2 separate regions of the Homo sapiens genome follow, and region 2 is linked to region 1. The links come from fine-mapping of genetic effects on gene expression. A gene starts in region 1. The other region holds a variant in brackets. All regions are shown on one strand. Distances are from middle to middle.

Evidence for each region. PIP is the estimated chance that this variant, and not a neighbour inherited with it, causes the effect. A credible set is the group of variants that fine-mapping cannot tell apart.
Region 2: its variant is the best candidate, but not a certain one, in a credible set for the expression of STMN2 in fibroblasts (GENCORD, PIP 0.64).

What each region holds. Positions count from the first base shown.
Region 1 is chr8:79,606,995-79,616,498 of GRCh38, forward strand. It overlaps STMN2 (stathmin 2), which reads left to right and starts at 4,123. Exons shown (of 5, transcript NM_007029.4): 1 at 4,123-4,220. The coding sequence starts at 4,202. RefSeq lists a silencer at 6,373-6,432.
Region 2 is chr8:79,339,919-79,349,422 of GRCh38, forward strand. No RefSeq gene overlaps it. Among named protein-coding and RNA genes, the nearest start is that of MIR12123, 12 kb to the left of the region's middle. The variant G/A (reference allele first, on the strand shown) is at 5,029.

The DNA.
Region 1 (9,504 bases):
TATAAAACTATCAATAGGATTTACTAATTTCAATAAGTCATTTTGCTTCAGGGTGAATTATACTAATTATTAATACATACAAGTCCCATTTGGACATAAAGAAAACCCTAGGTAGAGAAAAAATAATAATAATTAACTAATCATTGTTTATTTTTAAATAACTAATTTAAGAAGAAAACAATGAAGTGTGTTTGTTCCACACTTCAGAAATAACTCTAACACACTGGCAAATTCCTGAGCAATACAGAGCTCACTGCTAATAAAGAACACCAACTCTCCCTCCTTGGAATGACTTTCCTTTTGAATAAACCATATTAGACAGTTCTATTAAAGGACACATGATCCTTTTTATTTTTCATTAATCTATAAGAATTTAAACATGGCAAAATAATCAAAATGTTAAAAAGTCAACTATTTTTTCATGTGTGATTATTTTAGATGCATCTCTAAATATCTTCAGCTATAACTACTTTATATCCTAAATTTCTAAACATCTAAAAAAATTCAATGGATTTTATCTCTCACATTTCTTTTGTAATCACCTGAGGTCAGATCAAAACAATTAATTTGACCTTAACAATGTTTCTCTTATCTCACTAACTTTTAATAATTACTTTAGGATTCTTTCCCAGGCACTTGATTATGAATAGCAGAAAATCATATGACTGTGTTAGATGGCATCAGCTAATCCTCCAAAGCAACTGCTTCTCTCTGGTTTGGAAAGAAATCAACACCTCAGGCCTCCTCACAGAGATAATACACACTAGGCTATAACCCACAATAATTAAAATTTCTGTTAGCAAGTCTGTGATTTCCACAGCTCCAGCTTACTGCTGGCTGTTAAAGATAACAAAAATTAACAAGGGCCATCTACTATTGTGAGCTCTACTCATTTAGGTTCTTTGGGAATAGGGCAGGATATAAATAAATAAACACTGGTAAACAGCCTAATACCTGCTCCCAACACAAGCTAAGCAAAGGAGGTTAGAAGTGTCAATATGGTCTCACTGGATTCATCCATTTTGAATCATTTTCAACACTGTATTATTTATTATTTCACAAATTGTTTTTAACTGTCTACCACGTGAATCATGAAACCAACCACTAGGAAGGGTATAAAGATATACACTATTCATTCTCTACCTTTCAAAGGTTTAAATGTATTGGAAACACTAAATATAGTCATAGTACTTAAAATTACTATATATCCATGATGGCTTAGACAGTTCATACATGATAACCCTTCAGTCTACCCAAATCCCCACACGACAGATACTGGTTGTCCTTAGTTTATACTGTGCAAATGTAGTACCTATTCTTTGAGTGTCCACCCATTCCCATCAAAACCATTTCCTTCAGGAAAAGCTGATCTCACCTCCAGACCTCTAGGGCCAACTCTATCTATATGGTTAGACGAAACAGCAAATGCACTTTTATTATTAGTGCCAGTTTGGGTTATTTTTTCAAATTTTTGCAACAAAGTGTGATCCACAATACACAAGATCATATTCACTCCCCCAAATTAATATTTTCTTAAAGAGATGGGTGTTATATTTTCCTTCACTTTCTATTTTTCAGACATTAAGGAGAAGCTTGGCTGGCATCACAAAAGCCTGAAACATCATCAAATAAATATTTGTTGAATAAATTAGCTGAACAAATGAATAAGTGAATAACATATTGAATATGAAATAATTTTTCTGTTCATATTTCACCCTTACTTTCCCATGTGAATATGCATGATACCATATTGTAATGATAAAAGAAAACAAAAAACAATTTGATAATGGCACAGCCCTTTGAATTTATTTGTGTTTTCTTAGCTGATTGACAATTTTGCCTACTATCTTTTTATTCTATGGTAAATCATATTGACCTACTCTCTTCCCTGTTTGACATTATTTAAAAATCATTCATAACTGAAGTTAGGTGGCTAACACCTAGAAAATCGGAAATAGAAAAGAGTCACATATGTGACCCTTAGGGCAGTAGAATGAGTGTTTTGTTTTCCTCATAGTCATCAAAAGTGCAATCGATTTCATTCAGCAGCCAACTGCAGTTGTTAAAGAAACTAATGCCATGACTTAGGGCCCTTGTTCTCCAAGGAAGCTGAAGAATGTGTAGAGATGACACACAGCCTGAGGGGAAAGGGTGTGGTGGGGAGAAGAGAAATACTTTGAAAATATTAGTCACACAGACATGCTGAAGATCCTTCACCTCATGAGTGATAACTACTCCAGTGAGAGGTGATTAACTGTTACATTTAAAGTGGGAAATGCCTATATATAGAGAGAAAATGGTTATTTATTTCCAGACCCTGCCAACTTCCATATTGCTCTCTTGCTGTGTCATAGTCACAGACCTGTTCAAAGATAGGAAATATAATTTCTAATCTTCCTGTTCAAGAAATAATTTTATTGATCTCCACTTCATCTTTTATTTTCCCCATGATTCAGCAGGTCAAAACTGTTCCAGTTCCAGTAGCATCCTATCAGTCAGCAAAATGTCCATGAGGTTAAAATGTCTTACAAGTTAATAGGAGGTGAAGAAATTCATTTCAGCACCAAGGAGAGTGCCCTGCTATTTTCAATTGGTTTTATGTATTTGAAACTGTGTATTGTTCCTGAGGATAGAAAAAAAAGTTGAAATGTGATTGGACAGAAAGCTGCTAAAAACCTATTTTAATAAGAAGAAAAAAATACATTCATTTTTCTGAAATTAAAAACTTGCCAGGGTTTCATACCTGTTCATGATTGCAACAATGTGCTCTTCTTTTGGCTTTCAAACGTCGGAATTAGCAATTCTTTGCCTATTTTTCTAATATTAAAACCAGTTTCTGCATGGAATTAGACTGGCTCAATAAAGTTACAGAAGAGTTAAATTAGCAGTAATTAAAAACTTCATGCAGCAACTCCTAAACTTTTTCTCACCATTTTCAGAGCTGTGCACATGGTAAATGCTCAATACATATTTAAGTCAAGTGAAAGAGAACAAATGAATGACTGGCATCCATTAAGTGAGAAGGAGGAACTAATAAATGCCTTGTTTGTAATGAAAGTCATTTTTTGCAACTAGTCTCAAAGATCCTCACATACGACATTGCTCAATCCGAAACTTGAACACAGCCTTCCTGGGCCTACATAAACGTAGTCTCTCTGGATCTCAGAAAAATAATGACCCAGACCACACCTTTCATCTCTTCTAAGTTTTCCATGTAAAGCATTCTCCTTAGAGCCCTGGAAAGGTTACTAAAATTTTGACCCACTTAATCCTACACCTTCAGGGCAACATGGCATTCACCTGTGGTTTCCTTAATGCCCAAACCAGCCAGCCAACCTGTTTTCTGCCGTGTTAACAAATGGACAGGACACAGGCACCAGAGGTTAAACTTTCTTCCTCTTCCCCCATGTCCCCAGGTGGACCATTATTACCATCCCTATTCCCAAGCAACCAGGTAGCCCCTTCCTCTGTGCCAAGGGAAGAAAACACCATGCTTCCCTCTCCTGAGAGACCTTCAAGAGTTTAGAGACGCCTAAGTCCAGCTGTGCTAAAAGATAAAGGACAATAATGCAAGTCTGCTCTGAGCTGCCACCATAGCCAGACATAGGGTAGCCCTGAAAGACTAGAACCAAGGACAGAGCCAAAGGTGAAAGAAAATATGAAAAAGTGAAAACACAGTATTTAAACAGAATTTTCCAACAGCCTGCATATAGTGAGGACTTCTCAAGCTTCTGAATCCTTTTCCATTGAATTGTGCAATGGCACATGTATGAGCAAAGTCAAGCCTCCTGGCTCCCAGGTAGGCACAGCCCAGTTCTTAGCTCCTAGGAAGCTTCAGGGCTTAAAGCTCCACTCTACTTGGACTGTACTATCAGGCCCCCAAAATGGGGGGAGCCGACAGGGAAGGACTGATTTCCATTTCAAACTGCATTCTGGTACTTTGTACTCCAGCACCATTGGCCGATCAATATTTAATGCTTGGAGATTCTGACTCTGCGGGAGTCATGTCAGGGGACCTTGGGAGCCAATCTGCTTGAGCTTCTGAGTGATAATTATTCATGGGCTCCTGCCTCTTGCTCTTTCTCTAGCACGGTCCCACTCTGCAGACTCAGTGCCTTATTCAGTCTTCTCTCTCGCTCTCTCCGCTGCTGTAGCCGGACCCTTTGCCTTCGCCACTGCTCAGCGTCTGCACATCCCTACAATGGCTAAAACAGCAATGGGTAAGGCACTGCGCCTCGTTCTCCGTCGGCTCTACCTGGAGCCCACCTCTCACCTCCTCTCTTGAGCTCTAGAAGCATTCAGAGATATTTTATAAAGAAAAAGATGTTAATGGTAACACAGGACCAGGAAGGACAGGGCAGTTCTGGGGGAGGTGGGAGGGCAGAGAAGAGGTCTATGGAAATCTAAAGCGAAGAATTTCTTTTAAAAGGTAGAAGCGGGTAAGTTGCCCTCCTATGGGTAGAGAATTTATTCTGTTTCCATATTTAAAATTAGGACTCAATCGTGAGGGGAGGAAGCTACCTTAACTGTTTGCCTTAAATGGGCTTAAGGGACATTTTGGAAAGTGCTTTATAACGACCTTTTTTTTTTTTATTTCTTCTCTAGTTTAAGAAGAAAATAGGAAAGGGGTAAAGGGAAGGTGGGAGAAAGGAAAAAGAAAATTGCAAAGTCAAAGCGGTCCCATCCCGCTGTTTGAAAGATGGGTGGAGACGGGGGGAGGGGATGGAGAGAACTGGGCACATTTTACGGTATTGTCTCGTCGAAGAAACCGCTAGTCCTGGGGTGCGGTGCAGGGAGGTAAGACGGCGGGGGACAGGGTGGGGGTAGGACCTCCGCTCCTTTGTTTTAGGGCAAGGGAGGGGAAGGAGAGAGGAAGTCGCGGAGGGCGTGGAGGGCGCGGGTGGGCAGCTGCAGGGGCGGGGAAGCGCGCGGCAGGGAGGGGTGGAGGGACAGCGGCTTCGAAGGCGCTGGGGTGGGGTTTCTTTGTGTGCGGACCAGCGGTCCCGGGGGGAGGCACCTGCAGCGCTGGGCGCACAATGCGGACAGCCCCACCCAGTGCGGAACCGCGCAGCCCCGCCCCCCCGCCCGGTGCTGCATCTTCATTCGAAAGGGGGTCGGGTGGGGAGCGCAGCGTGACACCCAGGAGCCCAACCCTGCGGGGACAGCGGCGCCACGCCCCGCGCTCCCCGCTCCCGACTCCCCGCCGCGGCTTCCAAGAGAGACCTGACCACTGACCCCGCCCTCCCCACGCTGGCCTCATTGTTCTGCTTTTAAGAGAGATGGGAAAAGTGGGTTAACATTTTTCTTTTCGGAAGCAAATTACATAGAGTGTTTAGACATAGACACAGATAAAGGGTTCTTTGAAGACCTTTGATCGTTTGCGGGAAAAGCTTCTAGAACCTAGACATGTGTATGTATAATAATAGAGATGACATGAAATCGTATATAAAGCAAAAGAGGTCAAAGTCTTAAGTTAAGCCACGCGAAATTTCCGTTTTGTGGGTCAGACAGTGCCAAATATCGGCAATTTCATAAGCTCAGAGAGACAAGACAGTGGAGACACAGGATGACCGGAAAAGATTCTGGATTCAGGGCCTTCATCCGCAATTGGTCTTGTGCCTTGAGTGCCCACGGTTCTGGCGCTCAGTGGCCCCGGGGTGAAAAGGCAGGGTGGGGCCTGGGGTCCTGTGGCAGCTGGAAGCACGTGTCCCCCGGGACTTGGTTGCAGGATGCGGAGACAGGGAAAGCTGCCGAAAGGACTCCATCTGCGCGGCTCCGCCCTGCCCTACCCTCCCCGCGGAGCCGGGGAGACCTCAGGCTCCGAGACTGGCGGGGAAGAGGAATATGGGAGGGGCAGTTGAGCTGTATGCAGTCCTGGAACCTCTTTTTTCAGCCCCGCAGTCCACAACGGCCCGAGCACCCCTTGATGTGCGCAGACCCCCGGCGTGGCTCTCAGCCCCAGCACCGAGCCCCTCCCAGCCAAGCGGGTGGCTCTGCAGAAAAGCTGGCTCGAGCCCCGCCCGGCCACACAAAGGCGCGGCCCCACCCAGCCCGGGCGCGAGACCGCAGAGGTGACCCCCTTCCCAGGGATTCAGGGAGGGCTGTCTCTTCTCGCCCACCCACGGTCCGCGGAGCTCGGGGCTTTTTTTCCCCCAGCCCAAGCCCCCCGCCCACCCTCTGTTCTCTATGATTTTCCAGAATGGAGACCCCGCGAGGGGCTTCTCTAAGGGAGACCCTCGCTCCTCCAGCGGGGCGCGGCTCGGCCCCACCCCTCCCAGCTGAGGCCCAGAGCCGCCTACCGCTGGCCGGGTGGGGGCGCACGTGGCGACTGGGTGTGTGGAGCGCAGCCAGCCCTGCAGAGCCCCGCGCCGCGCCCTGCGCTCCCCTCCCCGGAGTTGGGCGCTCGCCCCCGCGGTGCAGCCGGGGAGACCGGTTTCTGCGCAGTGTCCTGAGCTACCCCCGCTTTCCACAATTCGCAGTTCACTCGCACGTCCAGAAAGGTTCTGAGAATGGGTGGTGGGGGCGATCTCGCCTCGCTTTCTGCACCCCTCAGAAAGGTTTCCGCTGCAGGCTAGTGGCTGCAAACTCATCGTCATCATCAGTATTATTATCATTTCAAATCGTTGTTATTATTTAATGATTCAGTAGCCTTGTTTGTTCTCATTTGTTCAAAAGGGACGTGGATTGCTCTTGGTTAAGGATTAACCCTTGTTGCGTTCGCTTTGCTTCCTCCTAATTGCCCTCATCCCTTTCCCCCACAAAAAGGTAAATTTGTCTCCAGTTGTTCATTTTAAGTTATAAAGCAAATATATTTTTGCTTCCTGCCAGGATTATGTATGTTCATGTGGCTAAGATACATGTGCAAGTGCTTGCTAAGAGCAGGGTTTGTGTGCCAACGATTGCTGGAAAATTCTCTGCAAAGAATTGTTTGTGGCTGCAATGGGTGAGAATACACATATATAATTGAGATGATCTTCAACATAAGGTTATATCTATAAATATATAAATATAGTTTATGCACAAAATTTTAAGTTTTTTCCCCTGAAACTGTTCTTCCAACTGCTGATTCTTGATACAGCCTCAATCCTACACAGATACATGGATCGTGAAATGGTAGCCGCCATCCAAATAAAAATCCCACCCCAAATATGACAAACGCAAGCATCCTTTCTGGCCATAATTTAACTGCATTTGCAAATCATGAAAAAAACACTACTTCTGCAGTATTAAAATAATAGATTTTGAAATTAATTCCAATTTCAAAGATAATTAATTATCAGGGCGAGTGCTTTTTTCCTGATTCATTAAACAATTATGTATTCAGCATGATTGTAAGAGGTGCATATAATATTCCCCATTATCTTTTCTAATGAAGTGGGCACCTTCTGAATGGATATATAAGTAACTAGAAATGAAAAGCTGAGGATTTGGTCAGAATTTCAGGATAAAACTGAAAGAAATGGCAGTAGTTTATCAATTAATCTCATGTATTTAGTTTATACCAGGTGAGTAAGCTGAGCCTGCAATAAACACTCTCTGTCCCAGTGTAACACGTCGCAGGTAGCTAGAATGATAGGATAAATTAATAGACCTTGTGGTGTTTGTCTATGCACGTTAAAATTCTCTGAGAGAAAGTATATTTTAAAATGATAATTAAGATTGGACATTTGTGCTATTAAAATCTACAACTTTAGTCAAAATTCACAATGGTTTTTTTTTACAATAATGTGACTTACAGATTTGTAGTAAATTATTCTATTCTAAAAGAGAAATGAGTGTTTTTATTGTTACAGCTATTACCTCATTAATATTTTTAGCAAACTTTTATTTGTTGCATTGAAAGCAGTTTTAATTACTTTGGGTTTTTATTTTTCAAATTACTAATGGATAGATGGTGGAATAAGCATTTAATCATTTGGCACAATATGACTTCCATCAAATAGCTCATTCTCAGTGATTAAAAAATGCTACAAGAGGCTACAATTTACTCAGATTCAGGAAATGTCCTTTCAGAGTGCCATAAGGCTGATTCATATAATAAAATAGTTTTCTTCCCTATAATTTAAGATCAAATAGTTACTTAGTTCTGTGAATACCTAGCAGTAGCTATCAAACAGAATTTTAAAGTTAAATCTGTACAACTAACAATGAAGTGGAGGATGAATCGATACATATTGAATGGAAGACTTTGTCATTGATAAATTCAGGCCATCTTTAGGAAAATTCCGGATTTATCAATCACCATTATTTTTTACTTCAACTGAGTGTGACTGATCACATGCTCAGGCTACCTTGGTAGCTCATTGCTCACAGGAGGCTGAAAAAAGCTGGCCTCCGAGCAGGAGGAAGCTCAGAGCACAAACCTAGGCCTGGGCGTGGCCACTGGGAGCTGCTGATAGCGAACCCCAGCTCACACCAGTTTCTTTTTTGGTCGTGGGAAGAAAAACACATATTATCCTGTTGTCACAAGATCTGTGACCTTATATGAAAAAATGCTAGAATTTTTTCATTAAAAAAGAAAATACTGAACTAGCCAGTGACCCAGATGTTTTCAGAACCTAGACTGGTTCTGTCCATTGGAAAACCTCGGTGTCTGCATTAACTTTTCACCACACTAGAGGGCAATCATGTTCTCTAAAAAAGCAGATGATTGATGTAAACCTAGTTCCAAATATTAACTGTTTAATAAAATCTTTTCTTTTACCAGGAACATTCAAGTGTTTATTCAATAAGCTGATGCCATGCTTTACCCTAGTGGATGAACAGAGCTTGTACAATTTTCAAGGAGACAGGATGAAATGAGTGGTCATAATCTGAAAGTAGATACACGCCCTGGTTAATTATTCCCTGATGGTTTTACTTCTCAGTTTTATTACATTGTTATTATAATACCATTTATGTTACTTCTGAGATTTTGTAGTGGATAAATAGTAGAAAAATGTCAGTAGTAATAGCAAAGTTATTTAGCAGCCGAATATTTTAATGCTTAAAAATAAAGGAATAAATTAAAGAAAATCATTGTTTACTTCTTCATCGATTGAAATGTGCCCCCTGTTCAGAGCACATCTGAATATCAGAGTCTCCACCTGCAGAGAACATGCAGCTTAGCGAGTAAAACAGGCAGGTATGTGATACTGAGGAGGTGTACCAAAAACTGACTGCTGTTATTTTTCCCATCTTCTAAGTCTGTCTTTCTTTTCCATTTAAAGATACCTTTTTAAATCTAATCCAATGTGATTTCAATCTAGTTTTATCAGATTTCAACAATTATTGAGCATCTCCTTGTAGTGGTTTTCTGTTTATTAGAAAATCGATGTTAATTTTAACGAAGTAAGAAGAAATATATAAGTATAAACTAATTTTGGGTATCATCAAAAGTGGATTTTTTAAATATGCATTGATAGAATTATTTTTTGATTACATTTTATGTAATTCTAATCCAGCTATAAAATATTTAATAGTGTCATATTACTGTGTTCCTCAAACTTTGATGTGCATATGAAT
Region 2 (9,504 bases), 270 kb before region 1:
TGTTTATCTGAAATCTAGATTAACTAAGTATCCTGTATTTTTCTTTGCTAAATCCAGCAACCCCATCCCTGATGTACACCCCAAGGATATATGTAGATCAAATGAAACACCAGGTCCCATTGTAGTAAGGAAATCAAGACAGCCTATAGATAAACTACTTATAGGCTAGTATTTTGGGACTCCAAGTAAGAGAACACCCAACTCAAAATGAACTAAGCAATGATGAAATGTATTATTTTACAACATGGAGTCTAACAGAGCATAGAGTCAGGGAGATACTCTACAGCAGGGCTCCAGCTTTATGTTTCTGTCATTCTTGTTAGACTGCCCTTGTCTTTGTGCCAGAGTGATCCTCAACACATAGCAAGGTAGCTGCAGAAATTCCTAACATTATAACCAGAGCTGTAACTTCCAGAGTGAGCAGTGAAGCTATATCATATTGTATGTCTTTTGAAGAAGGAGACAACCATTTTCCAGAAGCACAATAGCAAAATTCCATTGAAGTTTCATTGCCTAGAATTGATAAAAGAAATGAGAGTACCATGATTGTTTTGTGCTAATCATTTGAGGGTAGAAGGATATTGAGAAGTAGTCCATGATTACCATTACAGTTCACCTCTTTAGCTAACCAATATCTACAAATATTTTTAGAAATTCTAACATCTACATAAACACATTCATATCTTTCCTGAAGAAAGACCAAAATCTCTTCTGTATCCAGATCCAAGTGTGAATTTCCTGGCTTATATATATTCCTCTCCATCAGGTTCAGATATTGCTCCTGGCAACCTAACGCTAAAAGATGAGGGATCTACCCCTAAAATAACTGGTACAAAAAGGGCAGAAGGGACATGATAATAATATTAAATAAAATTCCCAATTGTAATAAAGGAAGAATGAGAAATTAAACTTGAGAGTCATTAGCCACACTATATATATTCTGTTGGAGAGACAAGATTTGATTCCCCAGGAAAATAATATGGTTTTTTTGTTTGTTTGTTTGTTGTGTGTGTGTGGTGTTGTTTGTTTTTTGAGACAAAGTATCGCCCTATCACTAGGCTGGAGTGATGTGGCGTGATCTCAGTTCACTGCAACCTCCACCTCCCAGTTTCAAACGATCCTCCTGCTTCAGCCTCCCGAGTAGCTGGGACTATAGGTGCGCACCACCACACCCAGCTAATTCTTTTGTATTTTTAGTAGAGACGGGGTTTCACCATGTTGGCCAGGGTGGTCTCGATCTCTTGACCTTGTGATCCACCCGCCTCAGCCTCCCAAAGTGCTAGGATTACAGGCATGAGCCACCACACCCAGCCAATAATATGATTTTTAATGAGCCAACCTGGCAGCATTGTTCTGTTCTGTGCATATAAATCCTTGTACATTTTCCCCTATGATCATACCTGAGGCAAGTGGTGTAAAGACAGACATTGTAGAGAAGAGCTTCAACAAACCGTTTTAAGTAGCTGAAATTTTTATGGCAAGGATACTTCCACCGGAAAATGCAGTTCTCATAAAAATTTATTAGGTTTCAGGTATTTTTGCTTCCAGTCCACAATTAAAGAACTTGATTTACCTGTGATCTTTGAATATGTAAATGCCTGTTTCTGGCTATGCACTTCTGTGTCCTTCCCTTCTCTGTTGGCCCCAGATGAGTAGCCTCCGCCCTGAAGGAATGTGAAATAATTGTCTTTGGTGGAGAGGCACCACAAATAATCTAATCTTTTTCTTAGGATTGGCCTCTTTTCCAAAAAAGAATGACTAATAGGAGGGACTTGAATGAAATCCCACTATGGTAACCTGAAAAACTGCTGTCTCTCTGTTGACATTTAGGTTAACTTTAGCTAGGAATAGAGAATTTGGCTATTCTACCCATCAGTGGACTTGGTTGTAGATCAAAGATACAACTTTTCTTAAAGTCACATAAGTCATGTTTCTCTCTATGTGCATTTGATTTGACCATATTCAGCTAAATCTTTTCTTTTAGGAATGTGCCAGTAGCATTGGGCAACAACACATCATTTCAATATTTCAAACTTTCCCTGTGGCTTTCCTAACACTAGAATCTGTATGGAAAATGATCTAAGTCCCAATGTACAATAGGCAACAGTTTAAAAGAATGTTGGCAAATGCTTCACCCATGGTCACCCACTTCCTAGCCTAGAATAGGTGGATCTTTTAGAGTAGGGAATTCTCTCTTCTCTCCCCTCTACTCCCTCCACTCAGCAAATATACCTTTTAGGGTATGTTCGGTATTCCCTTGAGCACTCTCCATTTTCCCACATTCTGTATCACTTAGGAAGCCTTCAACATAAGTAACAAAATACTATTTCAAATTGGCTTAAATAAGGAAATACATTTATCTCATACAACTAGAATTCCAGACGTAGGGCAATGCCAAGTTTGGATATAAGGACACCAGTTGCCCTTCTCCATCATGTTTTTGGCTGTGCTCTTCTTTAAGGGTGGCAGCTTCATGCTCTGGCTTATTTCAATAGTGCCAGGCATTACTTTAAGACAGTAGAATGTTCTCCAAAATCAGAAAGTAGTTTATCTTTCCTCTGTTTCCTTACTAAAGACAAGCAAGATGCCCAGAAACACTCTAGCAATCTTTCCTTCTTGTTTCAGTGGTCAGGATTTGTCACGCATGTATGCATGAGCCAGTCTCTGGAAAGAAAATGGGAAGGCATTGCTGTTCAGAGTAATTACTTGGGGTAATTATTACAAACCCCAGTCATGTGTCAATGCACTAAAATGTGATGCAGTGACAGAAATGTTCTTTGTAGAGATGAAGCAGTGTTGCTGGTGATGTCTTTCTCCACCCTAGTACTAATTTTCCTACACCTTATTAGTTGCAGAAAAACGTGTTATTGTTTTAGATGACTTTCTGGTCCTTTTAAGCAGAATTTAGAAATAGACAGGAATTAGTATGCACTGATATTGCTATCTTACACATGTCACCTCATTTTTAAAAAAATCTGCAATAATAAATCCAAATTCTGAAGCACATTTTTGGTGGCAAGATAGCTTAATGAAACTTTTTTTAAAATTCACAAAATATGTCTTTTGGGATTTAGGAAAAATAAGGCAATATAAAACTTCAGAAGTAAGTTTCCAACTGTAAAGAAAGAACAAAGATGAAGTCTTAAGGGGCCTTCCAATCTATAAAAGTAATTATTTTCCCTGGTAAGCTATAGTCTCTACTCTGAGACATGTGAGATGTTTTTCTCAAATTTTATTTGGCATTAGCTTCACTTCCACCATGCTTCACATACTGCATATCAGTCCAAGGCATTGAGACCTTTTCTACTTGATGTAGCAGGGGCAGCCCCTCCAGGTTGCAAGGCAGTAGGCCAAATATCTGTCTGAGTTATGAAGACATCTAAAGTGTGGAGGGTTATAAGTGCCCACCTCCAAAGCTGGTAATAAACATCCTTTGATAAAAAGTGCCCATTTCACTCTCGACACATCTAAAGTCCCTTTTTATAAAAAGACAAAAACTCAATGGGCTTGCAACATTGTATGCAATGGGAGGCCCTGATGTGTTTTATGAACAGATTGTTGAAGATGTACCTGAAAATGTAGTCCTCAGGCTCCAGCTTTTTCTCTAAACAGAACCTCTCTCCCTTATGTAAATCATACTTTAATCAAGTGAATTACCCCCCCCCCCCCAGCCATAATGCACACAATACACATTTCTTGAGTGTGTAACATGTGACATGTGCTATTCTGGGCACCAGGAATACAGAGATGAGAAAAAAAGAGGCTGATTGGCTCTCAAAGAACTCACAATCTAGTAAGAAAAACACCAGCCATGCTGACAAATAATTGCATTAGAAGAGGGCCGGTGCTATAACAGAGCTTTGCAGAGACAAACAAGGGACAGAGAAGACAGTGGTCAGGGAAAGCGCCACTCAGATAATAGCTCTACCTTATCTGAGCCTTGAAGGATGATAAAGAGTTGTCCAACCTTTTTGCTTCCCAGTACTTTGATTTTACCTCTATCTTAGGACCTGTATTCTGTATGAATGCACTCCTGGTATGCGTCTGCCTGAACGAGAGTGCAAGCATCTCAAAAGCTGATTACATCGCTTACTCATCAGTTTTACGCCCCGGGCTTCTTACCAAACTAGATTCCTAGAAGGGGTCAATGCATGTCTGTTGTGTCAATGTATGTCAGTCTTGGACCACAACTCTCTTTCTGGTCAATTCAAATTCAACATATTTAATGTAAAAGTAATCTCCTCACATTAAACTCTCTCTCTGATTTGCCAGTTTCTATCAATAATTTAGTTTCTTTCCACGTCATCATGAATCAAAAAATCTCTGAATTATATTTGATTCCTTCATCTACTTTATGCCTACATCTAATTACCTAAGACATCTTATTGATTGTCCTTTCATGGTTTCTATCTTGTGCTTCTGCCATTGTAGAATGCTACTTGAAGTCACTTCTGATGCTATGTTTATTTACATAGATTTCCAATTTCTCCCATTCTTACATACTTTTCCTTGAATTTCATCCGGAAACTCACTGCTATGTTTAAGGACTTCCACTTCTGACTCTATTTGCCATCTACCCAAACAAAACGAAAAGATATTCCTATGAAATACCCTTTTTACAAATCAGATATATTTTCCTCATAGCGAAAGATAAAGGGAGAGGACTAGAAAAAAATTGTCATCCTTTGGTATATTATCTATTGCTGCATAACATTTTACAGCACACTTAACAACTTAAAACAACACACATTAATTATACCACAGCTCCTGTGGATCAGGAGCTTGAGTGGGTTCTCTACTTCAGGGTCTCCCAGACTGCAATCAAGGTTTCAGCTGGGCTAGAGTCTTATTATCTGAGGCTCGGGGTCCTCACCAAGATTATGTGCTTGTGTTTGTTGGAAGAATTCTGTTCTTTGAAATTGGAGGACTGAAGCCCTCAACTCCTGCAGGCTGCCCACAGTTTCTGGCCATGTGTCCTTCTCCATAGGCAGCTCACAACATAAAGGCTTGCTGCTTTCAGGGCAGCAA[G/A]AGAGAAGAGAGAGTCTTCTCGGAGTCATATATGTATACACATTGTATTATAATCATGGGAGTAACATCCCATCACCTTTACCACATAATATAATGTAATCACAACATTTACAGGTCACAGTTCTCACCCACACTCAAGGGGAGGGCATTACATAGAAGCAGGGTAATCAACAGTCTCAATTCATTTTTGATATTTGATTGGAGACATGCCTCACCTCTCCTCTTTCCCTTCTGCTTGCATCTGTGTCACCTGAAAAGAAAGCCTGGGTACTTCTTCCTTTGGAGCCAGTGGAGGTTCACTCCACACAAACCCTGCTGTGTGTGGGAACCTTAACCCCAGCCACACTCTCTGACAACCATAACAACCCCCATTCAAGTCTCCTTTCCCTGTTCTCTTAGGCCATGTTTGGACCAGGATGGGAAGCTAGCCTTACACAAGAAATAAGACCTTCCATGCTGTCTGTGTGTGCGTGCGTGTGTGTGTGTATGTGTGTTTGTGTGTGATCATGTCTTGATATCTGAACCAAATTTGGGGGAGGGAGTAAATCCATCCTTTTTCCACAGAGCATTTAAATCAGACATGAAAATCAAGAGGTGGGCATCATGGGCAGACCCCTACTATTCACCACACCAGGTTTCATGTTGCCACAAGTGGAAATAACACATACTCCATCTGCTAAAAGCCATGTTCAGTCCTTGTGTTATGGGAGGTATAGGAACCAAGTTACCACAAGAATCTGCCTTGCTGCTATGAAAATATGTTGGATAACTATGGATACAAGAAAAACACATTTCTAGGATTTCATATTTTTAGACATTGGTAGGAAAAATCACAAACTTAGTTATATATGCAATTGACAAAGAATAATTTAAAAATGAAAAGGTAATGAGAAAGTTTTAAATATTTAAGTAGCATGAAATATGCGTACAAATGTGTCACAGGTAAAAATAGAAAGTAGGCTAAACGTAGCAAGAAAAACATGATTACATTTGCATCGCTACTATTAAAAAAAAATGCAGTGTTATTGTGTCCCCAGCTGTACCTGGTCATAAGAAAAATACAAATGAGATTTTTTTCATCCCCATCTCCACACAAGGAGTCCAAGTCCTTTAATTTTTATTCTGTGAAACACCAGTATCTAGAACGAGGAACTTTGGATGTCCATTGGCAGTGGGTCACTGGAAAGGAGGTAAAATATATATTGGAGAAGAACCAGTAATCATCATTACAAGCCCCTTCATCGTCAATCCCAGTGCTTGTAAGAGGAAAATTCAGCCCTTTCTTCCACTTTGAGAAATCAAGCCCTGTTTCTCTTTTCTAGGATAGTCCCACCTTCCCACTACCCTTGTCTTTTTAGTCTTTGATTACCAAAAATATGCCTCCATAAATACTTACGTGCGTCTTTCTGACTTGTGCTTGGATATGTATTTTTTGAGTCTTTTTTTCTATTTCAATATTGGCTTGAGAAAGCAAAGACTGCCCTCCCCTACCCCACTACCACTAGAGAGTAGAAAGGAGGAACAAAAACACAGAAAGTACAACAATTAATATTTCCAGCTATAATTCTGCCTCCAAAAATATATTTGTTTTAAGGTAGATACTCTTCCTAAAACAATGATAAAATCTCCACTAGTTAAAAATACTTGAATGAAGCCAAGGAATTTGAATATTCCAGCTGTATGGGAAGCTTATAGTGAGCAGGGGCCATGTTTTATTTTTCTTTACAATTACAGTGTTCATGATGGTGCCAGGCACTACGGCACTTTTTAATTAATTAGAAGAGATGTTCTTATCTATGCTAATATACCAAAATTATTTATCCTTTGATTTGTGAAATAGATTCACTACGCAAACCTTAAAACTGCATTTATTTTCAAAGAAAAAGTTTTAAAAAAAGTCTTCCATTGGTGGTGTGTAGGAAGTGATAGATTAATTTTTATCTTTTGCTGAGTAATTTGTTAACATGGTATGTTGACTGTGACTCTACCACCCAATATTCAGCTTTCCTCTGTTACAAGGTTCTATCAGTTAGGTATTGCTGCAAAACAATCCACCTTAAGACTCAGTTATTAAACGGAAGATTATTTATTATTAAATCTCATGAGTCACAAGGCTTGGTGTTGGTTGATCTTGACTGGTCTTACTCATGTTTCTGCAGGTTAGTGTTACTCCATGTGCCTCTCATCCTCCCTCTAAAAGTTGAAGGGTAGCCCAGGCATATCCTTCTTGTGGTGATGACAGAGTCTGTAAAGAGCAAAGTTTTTCAAACTCAACTCTATTGATGTTTTAGGTTGAATATTTTTTGTTGTAAAGAGTTATTCTATCATAGGATGTTCCACAGGATCTTGGGCCAGTACCCACTGGGTGCCAGTAGAATCCCCCAAGTTGTGGCCAAAAATGCTCCCAGATATCGCCAAATTCCCCTAGGGAAAAAGCTGCCCCTAGTTGAGAACCACTTTTCTAGAGTACAAGCAGAAATACACAAGGTTCATGAGTCCTGGGCTTGCAGCAGGCATACCGTCACTTCTACCTCATTCCGTTGGTTAAAGCAAGTTACATGGAGAACCCAGTCAAGCAAAGCAACAGGGCACCCAACTCATAGTGAAGTTATAACACATGAGAAGGAACACCAATACAGGAAAGTAAGAAGAATTGAGCTATTAAAACAATAAATTTATTTCAACAGTTATGAGTTCAAGAACTTTACTCTGGTATAGACTTTCTTCCAAGACTAAAATAACGTTTTCTATAATTTGGGATCTTATTAGATAGAACAAGCTCCCAGGACTTAGATGCTGTACTACTACTCCTTCCTTTTTGGTCTGATTAGTTAAAATACCTACTAGACATAATAGGCATTGAACAAATAAAATAATATCAACACCTTTATACATTAGGTTTTCTCAATATAATACACAAAGTAATCAAATCGAAAAATTCTTTATGCTGTAAAGTTCTATAAATACTAATAGTAATTTCTTACCTAAAATTGTATATTCACAAATAACCATGTATGTATACAGGGAAACATAGAATAGCTTGCTTCATGGTAGAACAATACAAATGCAGCATGTACACTCTGTGAAGGAGAGCTGTACATGTGTGTTATACAGTAAATGATGCAATTTAAGACCTAAAAATTTCCAATTGAGAAACAAAAACAGGTTGTAAATGTTGGTTAATACTTTTTTTTTTTTTTTGAGACAGAGTCTCACTCTGTAGACAGGGCTGGAGTGCTGTGGCATCATCTCTGCTCCCTGCAACTTCCACCTCCTGGGTTCAAGCAATTCTCCTGCCTCAGCCTCCCAAGTATCTGGGATTACAGGTGCCCGACACTACACCCAGCTAATTTTTTGTATTTTTGGTAGAGACGGGGTTTCACCATGCTGGCCAGGTTGGTCTCAAACTCCTGACCTCATGATTCACCTGCCTCGGCCTCCCAAAGTGCTGTGATTACAGGCGTGAGCCACCGCGCCCAGCCGGTTAATACTTTTTAAAAAGAGAAACAACTATGTTTTAGGGGGAAGAACACACTGAAACTGATTCTATTTATATGCTTAGGTAACCCTGAGCAAAGTCACTTGTTTGAGATCTATAGCATGGAGCCATCAAGTATACTAGGCTGAATCGTATTAAATTTGCCAATATTCAATTGCTTTTGTTTATCTTCAAACATAGCAATTTCATGTGGTTCAAATTAGCAGATAATAATACTAGCCCCACAATGTTGTTCAGAGGGTTAAAAGAGTCAACATTAATTGATTTTTAACCAAACTAATACATAAACAATGGTAAATAATCAGAGAAATATAGAAATCCACGATGTCAATACAGAACAAAGCAAAGGCACAACAGCATCTTCTGGGAAGCATCTGCTCCTTTTTAATAAGTTTGATCTAATTCCAAATTATAAAAATGAGATTGCACAAAAATTAGAGAGTTGCTAACAACAGTTGGAGGTGGTGAGGAAAGGGAAAAAGAAGAAGAAAGAAAATTTCCTTTAAAAATAGAACAAAAAAATAGCACAAAAGAGATTAAAAAGAAATTGGGGCCTGTTATTCTTAAATATTCCTGGGAGTGGGAGGGGATGAATCTATTATTGTTTTCTGACTCTCTAAAGCAATCAAACCTTATCCTGGAAGTGAAATACAAAGACTAAAATGTTTTCTTTTGAAGCTGGGTAAAAGATGAATCATGCTTTGAGGCAAGTTTCCTAAAAGAAGATTTTAGAAAATGAAGTGATAAAAAGGCAGTATGAACACAAGTTTTTATTAAATTCCTTCCTAATTATAAGATAAGATGGCTCAGTTGTGAGTCAGTTGGCCACTGTGTGTTATATAGTTATGCTTATTTTAAGAAGAGTAAAATAATATATTTCCTTTAAAAGCAATAAAGAGTAAACACTGCAATACTTAAATTGTGGTTCCAAAACCCAGTTATTCACCAGAATTATTTGGAGTCCTTTCTTAAAATTA